Linked DNA regions of Homo sapiens: region 1 is linked to region 2. The links come from fine-mapping of genetic effects on gene expression. A gene starts in region 2. The other region holds a variant in brackets. All regions are shown on one strand. Distances are from middle to middle. Region 1 overlaps WDR72 (WD repeat domain 72). Region 2 holds the start of WDR72 (WD repeat domain 72).

The links.
Region 1: its variant is fine-mapped to the expression of WDR72 in lung (TOPMed, PIP above 0.99).

What each region holds. Positions count from the first base shown.
Region 1 is chr15:53,536,324-53,544,872 of GRCh38, forward strand. The region is part of intron 18 of WDR72 (WD repeat domain 72); the gene reads right to left. The region is part of intron 5 of LOC105370826 (a long non-coding RNA gene); the gene reads left to right. Among named protein-coding and RNA genes, the nearest start is that of WDR72, 220 kb to the right of the region's middle. The variant G/A (reference allele first, on the strand shown) is at 4,326.
Region 2 is chr15:53,754,475-53,763,023 of GRCh38, forward strand. It overlaps WDR72 (WD repeat domain 72), which reads right to left and starts at 5,189. Exons shown (of 20, transcript NM_182758.4): 1 at 5,159-5,189.

The sequences.
Region 1 (8,549 bases), 220 kb before region 2:
TCTCAGTAGAACTACAGCTGGTAGTTCTAAGGTTAAGTTGTTGAATGGTTGGATTGGCAAGATGTAGTTAGAAAAAGTGGAAGAGAACTTCAACTTATTTTTTTTACTTTCAACAATGAGTCCCAAAGAGCTGTCTGAAACGCTATGATCATGGGGCTCATCGGTCGACCTCCAAAGAAAGGAAGGGTGCCTTTCTGGTTACTCTCCTACATCTATAAGAGAGCTTGGGGAAATATACAAAAAAGCTGGATATTTATCTAATGAGTAAATGGGTGGATGAATGTATGAACAAACAAGTCACTGTTCTCCAGCTGACGTTTTAGAAGTGTGGTGAACCATTGCACAGTAACATGGTCAGCCTCCAAAGGTGGAGAGAATTGAGATCTTTTAACGGCATTGAAGCTAAAAGTTTTAAACAATGACAATTCACTGAGAAATGTACCAAAGCAGTGACATAGCACATTTAGTACTTATAAGGTTAAACACTGGGCTGCAGTAGCTGCTTGACCGTAAAAAGTAGGATTAAGGCTTTTGCATGAGCCTTGACATGATCCTGTTGTCTGTCTGCTGCCTTAAGCTTTGAAAAACAGCTGGGATCATCTTCTTATAAGCTCCAGCTCAAAGATGTTTAAGCAGTCCCCAATCCAATTAAACAGAGGTAAATAGAAGGAAGAATTGTACTGAGCACCATCATCACCTTTTTTCTTAATGAAAAACAGTGTAATTGCGGGTTACACAGCTCCTTAATCTCACATTAAATCTAATAGATTGCTGACTTATACTGAGCATGACAGTCCCAGCTTTCTATATTGGTGTGCTTAATTTTAGGTCATTATCCTTTATTATGTGACTTGTAATCCTTAAAGCCCATGATTGTGTCTGGATATTTGGCAAGGATTGTATTTGGTAATACAAGGATTCTGCTTCTAAGAGTGATGGTTTAATTGAATGACATTGTATAATTATTAGATGTTCAGAGAATTACATATATTTCTTTCCTTTTTTAATTGGCTGGTTTCTTATAAGTGTTTCCTTCAACAAACATTGTTCAAGATTATTATTGAGTTTTAGGGGCTCTTCTGAAAAGGACAGCTTTCACAAATGAAAGACAAGTAGTTTATTGATATGGAAATGTATCTAAATGCTATTAAAATGCCCAGTTCAAATACAATCCTGGCTCATCTACAAACTGGGAAACCTTGGTCATGTTACTTTACCTTTCTGTCTCTGTTTCTTCATTTATAAAATAGCAATAGTGATGGTGCCTACCAGGGGCAAGAAACTGTTGTTACAATTATATGAGTTAAAACATGTAAAGTGCTCAGCCTAATGGCTCAAATGTAGACAGTCTAAGTAAATTCAGTATTATTATTATTTGTATATCTGTCTTTGTCTAGAAATATGCATAAATGTAAATAAGATGTCCAGCCTTAAGGTCAAGACATTTTATTTTATTTTACTAGCAATGTAGTAATATCTAAAATTTCTCTAACCTAGTAATAGAAGAAATATTTTAAATAGCTATATTATCTTGATCTTCATTGAAGACTGTAGAAATCTACAAGTTATTGTTAGTGGCCCCCTTTTATTTTACCAGTTTAAAGAGGCATGTCCATTTGTATCTATTAACTAAATAAAAACCTGTCCAAAGTCATCTGTAATTCTTTTTTCTTATCAAGAGTGCTGAATATGGAAGGAAGTAAAAGTGACTTCTGACAATGCTGACCAGATAACATAGAACCTCATTGGAAAGTTATTCTAAATAGCTTTTTTAATTTTTTGCTGATAAATTAAATAAAAATTAAATGGAATGGAAATGATGATATGGTGATATACTTTACATATATATTAGCCTTTTAGAGAACTGATTTGGGTTTGGAAATTTAAATTATTGTATGTGCACAATCAAATTTCAGCTTATGGATATGATTAGATCATAACATTTTAAATGAGCAACTATAATCTTTTATATTTCAAAGTAAGAACAGGTCTTGCACCATCACTTGTGCATGGTTCTTGATTGCTGCTTTTTTCCTGGTTTCCATTCACACATTAAGATTTAAGAAATGCTAGTATTGAAACTGAAAGTCTAATGAAGCTCAGCTCCGTCAATGGCAAACACATTAGTGGAGGAGGTCATTTGACGGTGTATACATCTAACACACAGAAATAGTGGTTTACTTGTTATTAACATTCTTCTTTTTCATTTCTAGGGTAGAAAGCACCATAAAACCTCATATAAAATAACATCAAAAAATTCTCTTTTTCTTGAACACCAGGTTAACATTGGGTGATGCGGAATGCATTATTATATCCATTTTAGTTAATTTTAAAGGTGAAAAAATAGACTTATTTTGGTTTATTATAAAAAGTTTTTTGCTGTGTTTTTATCTTGTTTGACCCAATATTTATACTGCTACCCGCCCTGGCTCACCCACCCCTAGACACACAGCAGATCACAGAATGAATCAGATCACTGCATGGTTCTGATCCTTCTATAAAAGCAGCTGAAATAACTGGATCAGAGATTTCATGACTGGTCTCAGTAAGTACATTTAGATATAAGTAGTGCCTTGCTTTTGGTCTTTACAACACATACTCCATGAAACTCATTAATTTGAACTTATAGATAATAGCAATATTCTATATTTGAGCAAATTTCAAAATAGTGATAGAAAAATAAGTGGGTCAAGTTACTCATAAGGGAAAAAAATAAAATTGTCAAAAGATTCTGATGACAACACTTTACCCCAGAAAATAAAGTAACATACTTAAAAATTTAAGAGAAAGAAAAAATTGAACTAAGATTTTCTATCCAGCAAAATTGACTTTTAACTAGAAAGGCTGCAAGTTAATATAAGCATGCAATAACTTAAGAAATATTGTTTAAATATGCCTTTCCTGGGTGACCTACTAAAAATGAGCTTTAGATAACTAGAATAATTGAAAAGCCATCAGCATCAGAATAAGAGGTAAGCACTAAATATACATTTACCTGTAGAACTAAAATCAAATGATGGTTATAGAAATATGGCTGTATTCTCTGACAATTCATAGAACAACTATGAAAAATGCAGGTGATCAGAGGGATATGGAGAGTGCATAAAAAGCAGGATAAGCTGAGTAATTACATAGTAATACATATACTTAGTAGTATATGTATTACCTGAGAGTAAAAGAGTATCATTTCAAATTAGATGCTGGAAGAGAGAAAGTAAAAATGTTAGTAGCAAATTATTTCATTATTGCTAATAGTTGAGGGCTAACTGGCAATGAGAAGAAAGGTAATACGTAAAGGTTTTAGCATAAAGGTAAACATTAGGAAAAAAAAAAACTACCAAATACTCCCTCAATACCTACATACAGAAAGTGAGAGAGAAAGAGAGATTTTGAGGAAAATAAAATGAAATAGATGACATAGTAAAAGAACATATATAGTTTCATATATTTGTGTCTATGTACAAACTTACCATCTTTATCAATAAATGTTAATGGACTTAATTCACCTATTAGAATAAAAGAGATTAAGATTGACTAACAAAGTAAAATCTAACACTATGTTGTTTTTAAAAAGATACATCAAAAACAAAGAGTTAAGCAAGATTAAAGATAAAAGGATAGACAGGATATAAATAAATTTTTAAAAAGCAGTGGTCACAATATTATTGAGCATGGTGGAATGCAAACCAAAGAGCAATAAATAAAGACACAGAGAAGAGTATTTCGTAATACTAAAGACTGCAATTCACAATGGAGGTATTTCAATGACTAATATATGTGTAAGTAATAACACAGCTACTTTAATAAAGCAGAGGCTAAAGAGAATGGAAACTAACGATAGATAATGTTAGCACATATCTCTGAATATAAGACACATAATGGGGACGAAATATTGACAAGAATATAGAAAACCTACAGAACTAAGTCAATAAAGTAGATGTAATAATCAAACTCTAATGCCAATAGTAGACAGTACACCTTGTACTTAAGTGCACATGAAACATTTACCAAAACTGGCCACATCTTATTTTCCGGAGTGACCCCTCCAACATTCCAGGAATGGAACTAGCACAGAAAACTTCTCTGATCACAACGCAATAAGGCTAGAAATTAGATCGTTCCACCTGGAAATTTCAAAACACATTACTAAATAATTCAGCTCAAAAGGGAAATTCAATACAAAACTGTAGAACTTAAAAAAATTGTAATAATGAAGACATAACAATACAGCAAACCAAAGGAAGAAAGAAAAAAAAAAAAAACAAGAGGAAAGAAAGACAATGAATTAGAAAGCAGTAAAAAGAAGAACAGGAGGAGCCAAGATG[G/A]CTGAATACGAACAGCTCCGGTCTACAGCTCCCAGCGTGAGCGACGCAGAAGACGGGTGATTTCTGCACTTCCATCTGAGGTACCGGGTTCATCTCACTAGGGAGTGCCAGACAGTGGGCGCAGGTCAGTGGGTGCGCGCACCGTGCGCGAGCCTAAGCAGGGCGAGGCATTGCCTCACTTGGGAAGCCCAACGGTCAGGGAGTTCCCTTTCCTAGTCAAAGAAAGGGGTGACGGACGCACCTGGAAAATCGGGTCACTCCCACCCGAATATTGAGCTTTTCGGACCGGCTTAAAAAACGGCGCACCACGAGATTGTATCCCGCACCTGGCTCGGAGGGTCCTACGCCCACGGAGTCTCGCTGATTGCTAGCACAGCAGTCTGAGATCAAACTGCAAGGCGGCAGCCAGGCTGGGGGAGGGACGCCCGCCATTGCCCAGGCTTGATTAGGTAAACAAAGCAGCCGGGAAGCTAGAACTGGGTGGAGCCCACCACAGCTCAAGGTGGCCTGCCTGCCTCTGTAGGCTCCACCTCTGGGGGCAGGGCACAGACAAACAAAAAGACAGCAGTAACCTCTGCAGACTTAAATGTCCCTATCTAACAGCTTTGAAGAGAGCAGTGGTTCTCCCAGTACGCAGCTGGAGATCTGAGAACGGGCAGACTGCCTCCTCAAGTGGGTCCCTGACCCCTGACCCCCGAGCAGCCTAACTGGGAGGCACCCCCCAGCAGGGGCACACTGATACCTCACAAGGCAAGGTATTCCAACAGACCTGCAGCTGAGGGTCCTGTCTGTTAGAAGGAAAACTAACAAACAGAAAGGACATCCACAGCAAAAACTCATCTGTACCTCACCATCATCAAAGAGCAAAAGTAGATAAAACCACAAAGATGGGGAAAAAACAGAACAGAAAAACTGGATACTCTAAAACGCAGAGCGCCTCTCCTCCTCCAAAGGAACGCAGTTCCTCACCAGCAACGGAACAAAGCTGGATGGAGAATGACTTTGACGAGCTGAGAGAAGAAGGCTTCAGATGATCAAATTACTCTGAGCTATGGGAGGACATTCAAACCAAAGGCAAAGAAGTTGAAAACTTTGAAAAAAATTTAGAAGAATGTATAACTAGAATAACCAATACAGAGAAGTGCTTAAAGGAGCTGATGGAGCTGAAAACCAAGGCTCGAGAACTACGTGAAGAATGCAGAAGCCTCAGGAGCCGATGCGATCAACTGGAAGAAAGGGTATCAGCGATGGAAGATGAAATGAATGAAATGAAGTGAGAAGGGAAGTTTAGAGAAAAAAGAATAAAAAGAAATGAGCAAAGCCTCCAAGAAATATGGGACTATGTGAAAAGACCAAATCTACGTCTGATTGGTGTACCTGAAAGTGATGGGGAGAATGGAACCAAGTTGGAAAACACTCTGCAGGATATTATCCAGGAGAACTTCCCCAATCTAGCAAGGCAGGCCAACGTTCAGAATCAGGAAATACAGAGAACGCCACAAAGATACTCCTCGAGAAGAGCAACTCCAAGACACATAATTGTCAGATTCACCAAAGTTGAAATGAAGGAAAAAATGTTAAGGGCAGCCAGAGAGAAAGGTCGGGTTACCCTCAAAGGGAAGCCCATCAGACTAACAGCGGATCTCTCGGCAGAAACCCTACAAGCCAGAAGAGAGTGGGGGCCAATATTCAACATTCTTAAAGAAAAGAATTTTCAACCCAGAATTTCATATCCAGCCAAACTAAGCTTCATAAGTGAAGGAGAAATAAAATACTTTACAGACAAGCAAATGCTGAGAGATTTTGTCACCACCAGGCCTGCCCTAAAAGAGCTCCTGAAGGAAGCGCTAAACATGGAAAGGAACAACCGGTACCAGTCGCTGCAAAATCATGCCAAAATGTAAAGACCATCGAGACTAGGAAGAAACTGCATCAACTAACGAGCAAAATCACCAGCTAACATCATAATGACAGGATCAAATTCACACATAACAATATTAACTTTAAATGTAAATGGACTAAATGCTCCAATTAAAAGACACAGACTGGCAAATTGGATAAAGAGTCAAGACCCATCAGTGTGCTGTATTCAGGAAACCCATCTCACGTGCAGAGACACACATAGGCTCAAAATAAAAGGATGGAGGAAGATCTACCAAGCAAATGGAAAACAAAAAAAGGCAGGGGTTGCAATCCTAGTCTCTGATAAAACAGACTTTAAACCAACAAAGATCAAAAGAGACAAAGAAGGCCATTACATAATGGTAAAGGGATCAATTCAACAAGAAGAGCTAACTATCCTAAATATATATGCACTCAACACAGGAGCACCCAGATTCGTAAAGCAAGTCCTGAGTGACCTACAAAGAGACTTAGACTCCCACACATTAATAATGGGAGACTTTAACACCCCACTGTCAACATTAGACAGATCAACGAGACAGAAAGTCAACAAGGATACCCAGGAATTGAACTCAGCTCTGCACCAAGCGGACCTAATAGACATCTACAGAACTCTCCACCCCAAATCAACAGAATATACATTTTTTTCAGCACCACACCACACCTATTCCAAAATTGACCACATACTTGGAAGTAAAGCTCTCCTCAGCAAATGTAAAAGAACAGAGATTATAACAAACTATCTCTCAGACCACAGTGCAATGAAACTAGAACTCAGGATTAAGAATCTCACTCAAAACCGCTCAACTACATGGAAACTGAACAACCTGCTCCTGAATGACTTCTGGGTACATAAGAAAATGAAGGTAGAAAGGAAGATGTTCTTTGAAACCAACGAGAACAAAGACACAACATACCAGAATCTCTGGGACGCATTCAAAGCAGTGTGTAGAGGGAAATTTATAGCACTAAATGCCCACAAGAGAAAGCAGGAAAGATCCAAAATTGACACCCTAACATCACAATTAAAAGAACTAGAAAAGCAAGAGCAAACACATTCAAAAGCTAGCAGAAGGCAAGAAATAACTAAAATCAGAGCAGAACTGAAGGAAATAGAGACACAAAAAACCGTTCAAAAAATTAATGAATCCAGGAGCTGTTTTCTGAAAAGATCAACAAAATTGATAGACCGCTAGCAAGACTAATAAAGAAAAAAAGAGAGAAGAATCTAATAGACGCAATAAAAAATGATAAAGGGGATGTCACCACCGATCCCACAGAAATACAAACTACCATCAGAGTACTACAAACACCTCTACAAACTACAAACACCTCTACGCAAATAAACTAGAAAATCTAGAAGAAATGGATAAATTCCTTGACACATACACTCTCCCAAGACTGAACCAGGAAGAAGTTGAATCTCTGAATAGACCAATAACAGGAGCTGAAATTGTGGCAATAATCAATAGTTTACCAACCAAAAAGAGTCCAGGACCAGATGGATTCACAGCCGAATTCTACCAGAGGTACAAGGAGGAACTGGTACCATTCCTTCTGAAACTATTCCAATCAATAGAAAAAGAGGGAATCCTCCCTAACTCATTTTATGAGGCCAGCATCATTCTGATACCAAAGCCGGACAGAGACACAACCAAAAAAGAGAATTTTAGACCAATATCCTTGATGAACATTGATGCAAAAATCCTCAATAAAATACTGGCAAAACGAATCCAGCAGCACATCAAAAAGCTTATCCACCATGATCAAGTGGGCTTCATCCCTGGGATGCAAGGCTGGTTCAATATACGCAAATCAATAAATGTAATCCAGCATATAAACAGAGCCAAAGACAAAAACCACATGATTATCTCAATAGATGCAGAAAAGGCCTTTGACAAAATTCAACAACCCTTCATGCTAAAAACTCTCAATAAATTAGGTATTGATGGGACGTATTTCAAAATAATAAGAGCTATCTATGACAAACCCACAGCCGATATCATACTGAATGGGCAAAAACTGGAAGCATTCCCTTTGAAAAGTGGCACAAGACAGGGATGCCCTCTCTCACCACTCCTATTCAACATAGTGTTGGAAGTTCTGGCCAGGGCAATTAGGCAGGAGAAGGAAATAAAGGGTATTCAATTAGGAAAAGAGGAAGTCAAATTGTCCCTGTTTGCAGACGACATGACTGTATATCTAGAAAACCCCATTGCCTCAGCCCAAAATCTCCTTAAGCTGATAAGCAACTTCAGCAAAGTCTCAGGATACAAAATCAACATACAAAAATCACAAACATTCTTATACACCAACAACAGA
Region 2 (8,549 bases):
AAAAAATCCGTGGCAAAGGGGATCCCTCTTCTCTGCTTGATTTCTACTGACCAAAGAAGTCACTGTCCAGTGATATAAAGAAATTCTGTCCCTAGGGCATAAATAAATATCCAACACCTATAGTTCATGGGTGTATAAGAGCCTGAGAGGCCTGGAATCGATCCAACCCATTTTAACTAGCAAGAAACTACCTGGTAATACCTTGTTTGTATTTCTTGGAGGAGGGACACAAGAAACACTTATTTCATTCCACACAATAATTCACCACAATCAGAGAGAGCACAGCAAGGGCAACACCATCTCCCAGCTGCTGATTACATCAAAGGCTTGCAGCACAAATTCAATTTTATGATGTTAATCTCAGCCTGCCACTCAGAAATTTTCTCTGAGGGATATGATTTTTCTCTGGATTTCATTTTAAGAATGATTTTCTTCATCCACAATCAATAAAGATATGTTTTCATCAAAAGACTCTATCTTGGCAGAATTCAATTGGCTATTTCAACCCCTTTTGGTGACACAATGTTAATTAAAATAGTTTATGTTGCACCTCAACTGGAAAAAGAGGCAGTGAAAATAGGAGCTACTCAGAACACATGTTCTATATACATCAACATGGAAGGCAGAAAATAATTTTCTCCTTCCCCAGGCGACAGCTATTAGCTATTCAAGAGAGTTGCTCTAACTTGGTTTATCTCTGTGATCTCACTGGAAAAAAGAATGAAGTCCTTCCTGTTTATATTTTTTTGTTCAATTGGAAATCAAAATGCATATAAAGAAGATACTTTAAATGCTTACATCCCAGTTCCTCAACAAGAGGAGAAATAATTATCTGTGCTCCTATGTGGCATAACGGATTATTAGGCATCACATTCATTATTTCCCTTAACTAAAAATTAATGATGCTATTACAAATTATTTTTATTTTCAATTTTAAATAATAATTACAGCTAAATACATTGTATTTCTCAAAAGCAGGCATATAGATTCTCAAAAGCGGGCATATAGAATTAGCACAGGGTTTTGCACATTTAAGAAAGAGAAGAAAACTATGCAATGCATCACAGAAAATAAAGCAATTTGTTTTAACAGTGGTTTGGGAAGTGGCAGTTAATTAATTTAACAAAGATTTATAAAGCACCTACTGTGTTCTTGACTCTGTTCTCCTCTTGAGAATGAGATGAAGGCCCCACTTCCTGTCCCATGATGCTGACAGATCATGGGGCCTCCATTACCGCAGAAAGAGAAGGGCTAGGCCTGGTTCCCACAAAGCAGGTAGAGAGCGCAGCAGAGGCTGCACTTAACCCTGCTGGGAGGAGATCAAGAAGAGTTTCTCCAAGGAAGTCCAATTACTGAAACATTCAGCTGGTAATTTACATATCCAGTCTAAAAAAGTGGGGGGCATAGCTCAGTCTCTAATAGAAAAGGTAGTCTCTATCAACCACACCTTCTCACTCCCCCATTCTGAAATTCATTATTCCTCTTAACATAAGAAAGTGGTAACAAAGAAAGTAGGAGTACTGATACCCTAAGGAGAATAAGGATTTCACAGGACTCTGTGTTCTAATCTATACTAAAGCAATCTAAAAATCATATCAGCTTTCTGGGCTAATATGGTTTGGCTTCATCCCCACCCAAATCTCATCTTGCAGTTCCCATAATCCCCACATGTGGTGGGAGGGACCCAGTGGGAGGTAATTGAATCATGAGGATGGTTTCCCCCATGCTGTTCTCGTGATAGTAAGGTCTCGCGAGATCTGATGGTTTCATAAGGGGCTTCCCCCTTTGCTCCGCACTCATTCTCTCTCCTGCAACCCTATGAAGAGGTGACTTCCGCCAGGATTGTAAGTTTCCTGAGGCCTCCCCAGCCACGTGGAAATGTGAGTCAGTTAAACCTCTTTTCTTTATAAATTACCCAGTCTTAGAGCAGTGTCCTTAGAGCAGTATGAGAAAGGACTAATACATGGGCCCTCACAACTCACTGCCGACTCACAAGCAACAAAATGTCAATTAACCAAAAGGTTGACTGGTTCAGTAAATTACATCTCCCTCATCCTGTACTCGCTTATTGTTTTAAACACTTACTGTGTAGGGCTTTACATTTCTCCCAGTTGAATTTCAACTTGTTAAAAAAAAAAGACAGAGAGAGAGAGGAAAAGTCAGTGTCAAAGTAAACAATTGCTACCACTTACTGACTATATGTTAAGTTGTAGACACTGTGCTGCTTAGATTACGTTCACTGCTTCATGCGGTCCTCATAATATCAATATGCATTATTATCACTATTCCAAACATGAAGAAAATGAGTCTTGGAGAACATAAGTAACTTGCCGAAGGTCAGAGCTAGGAAACAAACAGATCCATCAGTCTATGAAAAACTCAATTCTTAATCACTGCACTATGCTGGTTAGGTGGGGCAGAGGTGGTGGTCAGCATGTGAGGACAGCCTCTGGAAATGAGAGCAAATTCTGGAATCAGTGTTCCCCTACAGCAATGATATCTAGCTCTGTAAATGAAAATTTGCATTTTTTAGAAAAGTTCAAAGGGGCCCAAATGTCTTTTCAGACCAAAGATATCTCTCTCATTTTGAAGATAAACGTGACACATGTAAATAAAGAAACTCCTGGGTCCCCAAAGTTGATTAGGAAGAGGTCTTGCAAGGACTTCAAAGCTGACCTGGGCCTAGACCTCAGTGCACAGATAGATACTTTTAGTCCAGGTCTCCACCACATCTGCCTGCTTCCAATTCAGCCTAGAGAAGAACTGAATCTACAAAGCTTAACAACTGGGAAAAAATAACCATACATATAGAAAAGGCCTCCAGAAAGGTACCTTTTATGATGTAGCGATAGAATTATTCCTAAATGGCCAGGCACGGTGGCTCATGCCTGTAATCCCAACACTTTGGGAGGCCGAGGCAGGTGGATCACTAGAGGTCAGGAGTTCGAGACCAGCCTGGTCAACATAGTGAAACCCCACCTCTACTAAAAATACAAAAATTAGCCAGGCATGGTGGCAGGCACCTGTAACCCCAGCTACTGGAGAGGCTGAGGCAGGAGAATCACTTGAGCCCAGGGACCAGAGGGTGCAGTGAGCCGAGATAGTACCACTGCACTCCTACCTGGGAGACAGAGTGAGACTCCATCTCAACAACAACAACAACAACAAAAAATTAAAAATTAAAAAAAAGAATTATTCATAAAGGACATCCTCTATTGTGAGCAACATTATTACTAACATTATTATTATTAAATAACAGAAATTTCGAGTATATGAATTGTCAAGCTACAAAGATATCTGAATGCAACAAACTTGAAATCTTAAAATCTTACTGATACCATTATTTTCAAGGTTCCTTTAAGTTATTTCACAAGTCAAATGCACTCTTCCATTCCAGTAGGCATGTATAAACTAGAACGTCAGATTTCTAAAGCATTCAGTTCATTGGGTAGAGACCGTTAATGGAAGATTTCACACACAGGGAGAAACTTAAGAGTTTATTTTCTCTCTCTCTCTCTCTCTCTCTCTCTCTCTTTTTCTCTTTTGAGACAGGGTCTTTCTCCGTCACCTAGCCTGGAGTACAGTGAAGCATGCAATCATGGCTCACTGCAATCTCGACCTCTCAGGCTCAAGTCATCCAACTCCCTCAGGCTTCCTAGTAGCTGGGATTATGGACTGACGCACACCACCACACCCAGCTGATTTTTGTAGAGATGAAGTTTTGCTATGTTGCCCAGGCTGGTCTGGAACTCCTGAGCTCAAGCGATCCACCTACCTTGGCCTCCCAAAGTGTTTGAATTACAGGCATGAGCCACAGCGCCCAGCCTAGTTAATATTTTCTTGACAAAATACTTATAATTTTAAAATACCTTTTCCAAAAGAAGTGAAAGCTTTGGAACTCAATATAAAATATTAATTTTTAGGTTAAAAAAATCACTTTACTAGACACCTTCAAGGGCAGTTTCCCTTTCTCCTACAGCCTTTTACATTCTTTACAGAAGACTCTATTGGCACATTTTAATATTGAAGGAGTTAAAAAAAGACAAAGGAACAAGTGATGTTTACAAAAAAAAAGCTGCACAAGACCAACTTAACCACAAGTACTTGCATGACAGAAGTGGCCGCTTTCCTTTTCACTGGTTTGTAAGTGGTGAGAGCTGAACAGGGAAGAAAGGAATGGTGTTTTGGCAGTGACAATGGGAAGGGGTGGAGGAAAACACTTCAGGTAAAAAGATCCCCAACAGGTGACCTAGTCTCCAATCGGTGACCTTGAAGTCATTTAACACAAAACTGCGGGGGGGGGGGGGGCGGTGCGGGCGGGGGAAGACAAACGTACCATACACCTACGTTTTGTTTAACAGAACGTCGTTAACTGTATTGAAATGGATACAAAAATGCTATAATAAGTGGGGAAGATGGTATAAGTCAGCACCAGTTTCCAAAAGGAAGTATTCCCAGTGCATCACCTTTTCCAGATTTTGTCAGCACAGACAGTCCCCCCTTTATCTTCCTGCCTCTCATCCAACCTTACAAGGGGCAAAAGTCTTGTCCCCGCAGTCTTTATTGCCGACTCAGCCCAAGCGGCAGAGCAAGGAAAGTTTCGCCAGCCCCCGTCCCCACAGCCCCAAGCTGTCACACCCCAGCAGGCTTAGGCCCACCCGGTCGTTTTCCCTGCCCTTGAACTCAGCTTTAAAATTAATTCGACCTAAAATTAAAGTTTTAAAAATAAATAAATAAATAAAATTAATTCAATCGATTCCGTTCCATAGAAGTCCAATTCCCAAGTTCCAAGAAATTATCCTAATAGGGAAAGGCAGGTCCCTAACCGTATCTGGGGTAGACTCCTCCCAGGAGCATAGGTAGGGATACTGCGAGATGAGCGGCTTTGTTCACTCCTGATGCCACATCTGGAAAAGAGTTTGAAGAGGGACTTTTCCAGTTTCCAAGTGCAAGAACTTAGAGCAAAGGAAGGGGTTAGAGATAGCGCTGCGCACGCCCACCCTCTTTCCCGGCCCAGCTGTATCCAAGCGCGGGCCGTCCCCTCCTGCGCCGTGCTCTGAAGGCGGGAAGGCGTGCGGCTGCACCAGCCAGGGGCAGACGAAGACCACCAGCCTGGGACCCGGCAGCCCGACCTGCGCTCTGGGGGTGCCTGCCTTACCTGAGCCGTGGGGCGGAGGAGCGGCAGAGGCCAGGCAGGCTGGCGGGTCTCGCCCTTAGGGTCACGGGTACCGGCCCCGCCCGCCTCGCCCCGCCCCGCCCCGCCCCGGTCCTGCCCCCGCAGCGCGCGGACCGGGCTAGCTCTGGCCCCAGCCGCCCGCGGGCGGGTGCACCCGCTCTCCCTTCCTGCAACCTGGACCCGCTGCCTCCCTCCCTCCCTCCCTCCTTCTCTCACTTGCGGTGGCGGCTGGAAAAGGCCCGCCAGCAGCCTGCGGTTGCCTGTCCTCTCAGGGCTGGAGAGAATTAGTTAGGGGGGGTTAGATCAAAAGAGCCCAGGTGACGTGAACTCTTGACCCTAGGCATTGGCAGAGATGAGGCCTCAACCTTTTTTTTTTTTTTTTTTAAGTTTTTGGGGATACACAGTAGGTGTATATATTTATGGGGTATATGCCGTATTTTGATACAGACAAACAATGCGTAATAATTACATCAGGGTAAATGAGGTTTCCATCACCTCAGCATTTATCCTTTGTGTTACAAACAATCCAATTATACTCTTTTAGTTATTTTTAACTGCACAATTATATTATTATTGACTATATTCACCCTGTTGTGCCACCAAATAGTAGGTCTTATTCATTCTTTCTGTTTTTTCTACCCATTTACCATTTCCACCTCCACCCGACTCCCCCACCCCCCACTACCCTTCACAGCCTTTGATAACCATCCTCCTACTCTCTATCTTCATAAGTTGAATTGTTTTAATTTTTAGCTCCCACAGATAAGTGGGAACATGTGAAGTTTGTCTTTCGGTGCCTGGGTTATTTCACTTAACATAATGATCTCCAGTTCCATCCATGTTGTTGCAAATGACAGAATCTCTTTCTTTATATGGCTGAATAGTACTCCACCGTGTATATGTACCACATTTTTCTTATCCATTTATCGGTTGATGGACAACTTAGGTTGATTCAAAATCTTGGCTATTGTGAACAGTGCTGCAATAAACACAGGAGTGCAGATATTTCTTTGATATACTGATTTTCTTTCTTTTGGATGTATACCTAGCAATCGGGTTGCTGGATCATATGGTAGTTCTAGTTTTAGTTTTTTGAGAAAGCTCCAAATTATTCTCCGTAGTGGTGGTACTAAAGAGCTTAAACAACTCAATAGGAAAAAATATAATAATTCAGTTTTAAAATGGGCAAAAGGCCAGACACAATGGCTCACATTTGTAATTCCAGCACTTTGAGAGGGCGAGGTGGGCAAATCACTTGAAGTCAGGAGTTCGAGACCAGCCTGGTCAACATGATGAAAACCTGTCTCTACTGAAAATGCAAAAATTAGCTGCTCATGGTGGTGTGTGCCTGTAGTCGATGCTACTCCAGAGACTGAGGCAGGAGAATCACTTGAACCCGAGAGGTGGAGGCTGCAGTGAGCTGAGATCACACCACTGCACTCCAACCTGGGTGTCAGAGTGGGACTCCATCTCTAAATAAATAAATAAATATAAAAATAGGCAAAAGACCCAAAAAGACATTTTTCGAAAGAAGGCATACAAATGACAAATAGGCATATGAAAAGGTGCTCAACATCATTGATCATCAGAGAAATGCAAATCAAAACTACAATGGGATATCATCTTACCCAAATTCAAACGGCTCATATCCAAAAGACAGGCAATAACAAATGCTGGCAAGGATGTGGAGAGAAGGGAACCCTCATACATTGTTGGTGGCAATATAAATAAGTACAACCACTATGGAGAACAGTTTGAAGCTTCCTCAAAAAAATAAAAATAAAACTACCATATGATCCAGCAATTCCTCTGCTGGATATATACACAAAAGAAAAGAAATCAATATATCCAAGATCTTTTGGTAAGGGATGGAAGGACGTTTTCCTCAAGACTGCATAGGCATGGTGGCTCATGCCTGTAATCCCAGCGCTTTAGGAGGCTGAGGTGAATAGATTGCTTGCTCCCAAGAGTTTGAGACCAGCCTGGACAATAGGAGGAGACCCCCATCTCCACAAAAAATACAAAAATTAGCCAGGCGTGGTGGCTGTGCACCTGTAGTACCAGTTCCTCTGGAGGTTGAGTCAGGAGGGTCACTTGAGTCTGTGAGTTGAAGGCTGCAGCTAGCTGTACCACTGCACTCCAGCCTGAGAAACAGAGCATGACTCTGTCAAAAACAAAAACAAAAACCCAAAGCAGAAAACCCACAAAACAAAAAATGCAGCCTCTGAATAGGGAAAAGCCATTAAAAGTATCAAGAGTGGGTGAAAAATTCAACATTGAAACCAGCATCCTAGCCTGTTGTGAATAGACTAAGTACCTAAACTGAATGACTGGGTGGTTTAGTAAAATGTGGGGTGGGGAGACACTGCTTTTTTTTTTAAGGTTTCTCAGTTACATGACTTTACCCTCCAAATCCTATTGGCTCCTTAGTCTTGGATTCTAATACTCCTGGAAGCAGGTTGGGAGAGATTTTAACTCCTCCTTTTTTTCACTGATATCTGGCTTCCCAAATATTAAGGATATTTGGCCAGGCCCAAGTAAGATCACAGGTTTTCCATCTCTTAAACTTCACATATCCTGGGTCTTCCTGCATGCAGTGTTTCCTACTAGAGCACTCCTCTCGCCTTCTGCATCCTTTGGGACTGGTTCATTTCCATTCTGGATTCTCACTTCCCTCCTGCAGGTTAGATGTGCTTGTTACTCACTCCTAATTACCTTGCTTCCTCTGTCATTACACTTGTCACAACTGACTACCATTGCTTGTGCATTGGCCTCCCCTGCTTGACTGTAAGCTCTGTAAAGGCAGGGACACCAAGCACGTAGGAGATACAGAATAAATGTTGTTGAATGATGTGCCTGTGACAGTCAACGGTTAAGGCATTCCCAGCCATCAACTCTTTAATGAATTTCCCTCACCAATCCTTTCCTTCTAAGTCTGCAGGTTCTTATATCAAAGTTAATATCCCCACACATCCCCTCATCCCCAAGCCTTCATCCTACCTCTTGAGCAGAGCCTTCTCCATAGTTTTCATAGTCGCAAATGTAGAAAGAGGTCTAGACCTAGTTGCTCTTGTCTGAGCTCTGCTGTAGCTAGCTTAGTGGTCTTAGAGACCCTCAGCCTCTCTGTGTCTCAGATCAGGGCTGGCTTATCCATTAGGGACGGTGCCCAGGACCCATAATAATTTGGGGGCCCACAAAATGGGGGCAGAGAGAAAAGAACAAAAGAACATTTAAGTCAAAGAAAGTCTTGTAATATATTATTTTAATGTGTTGGTCTTTGTACCAATGTAGTCACTGACCATGTTGAATTTTACCCAAGTCCTGTGATCCTGGAAAACATGAAGGGTTAAAGGAACCCTCCCACTCTTTAGTG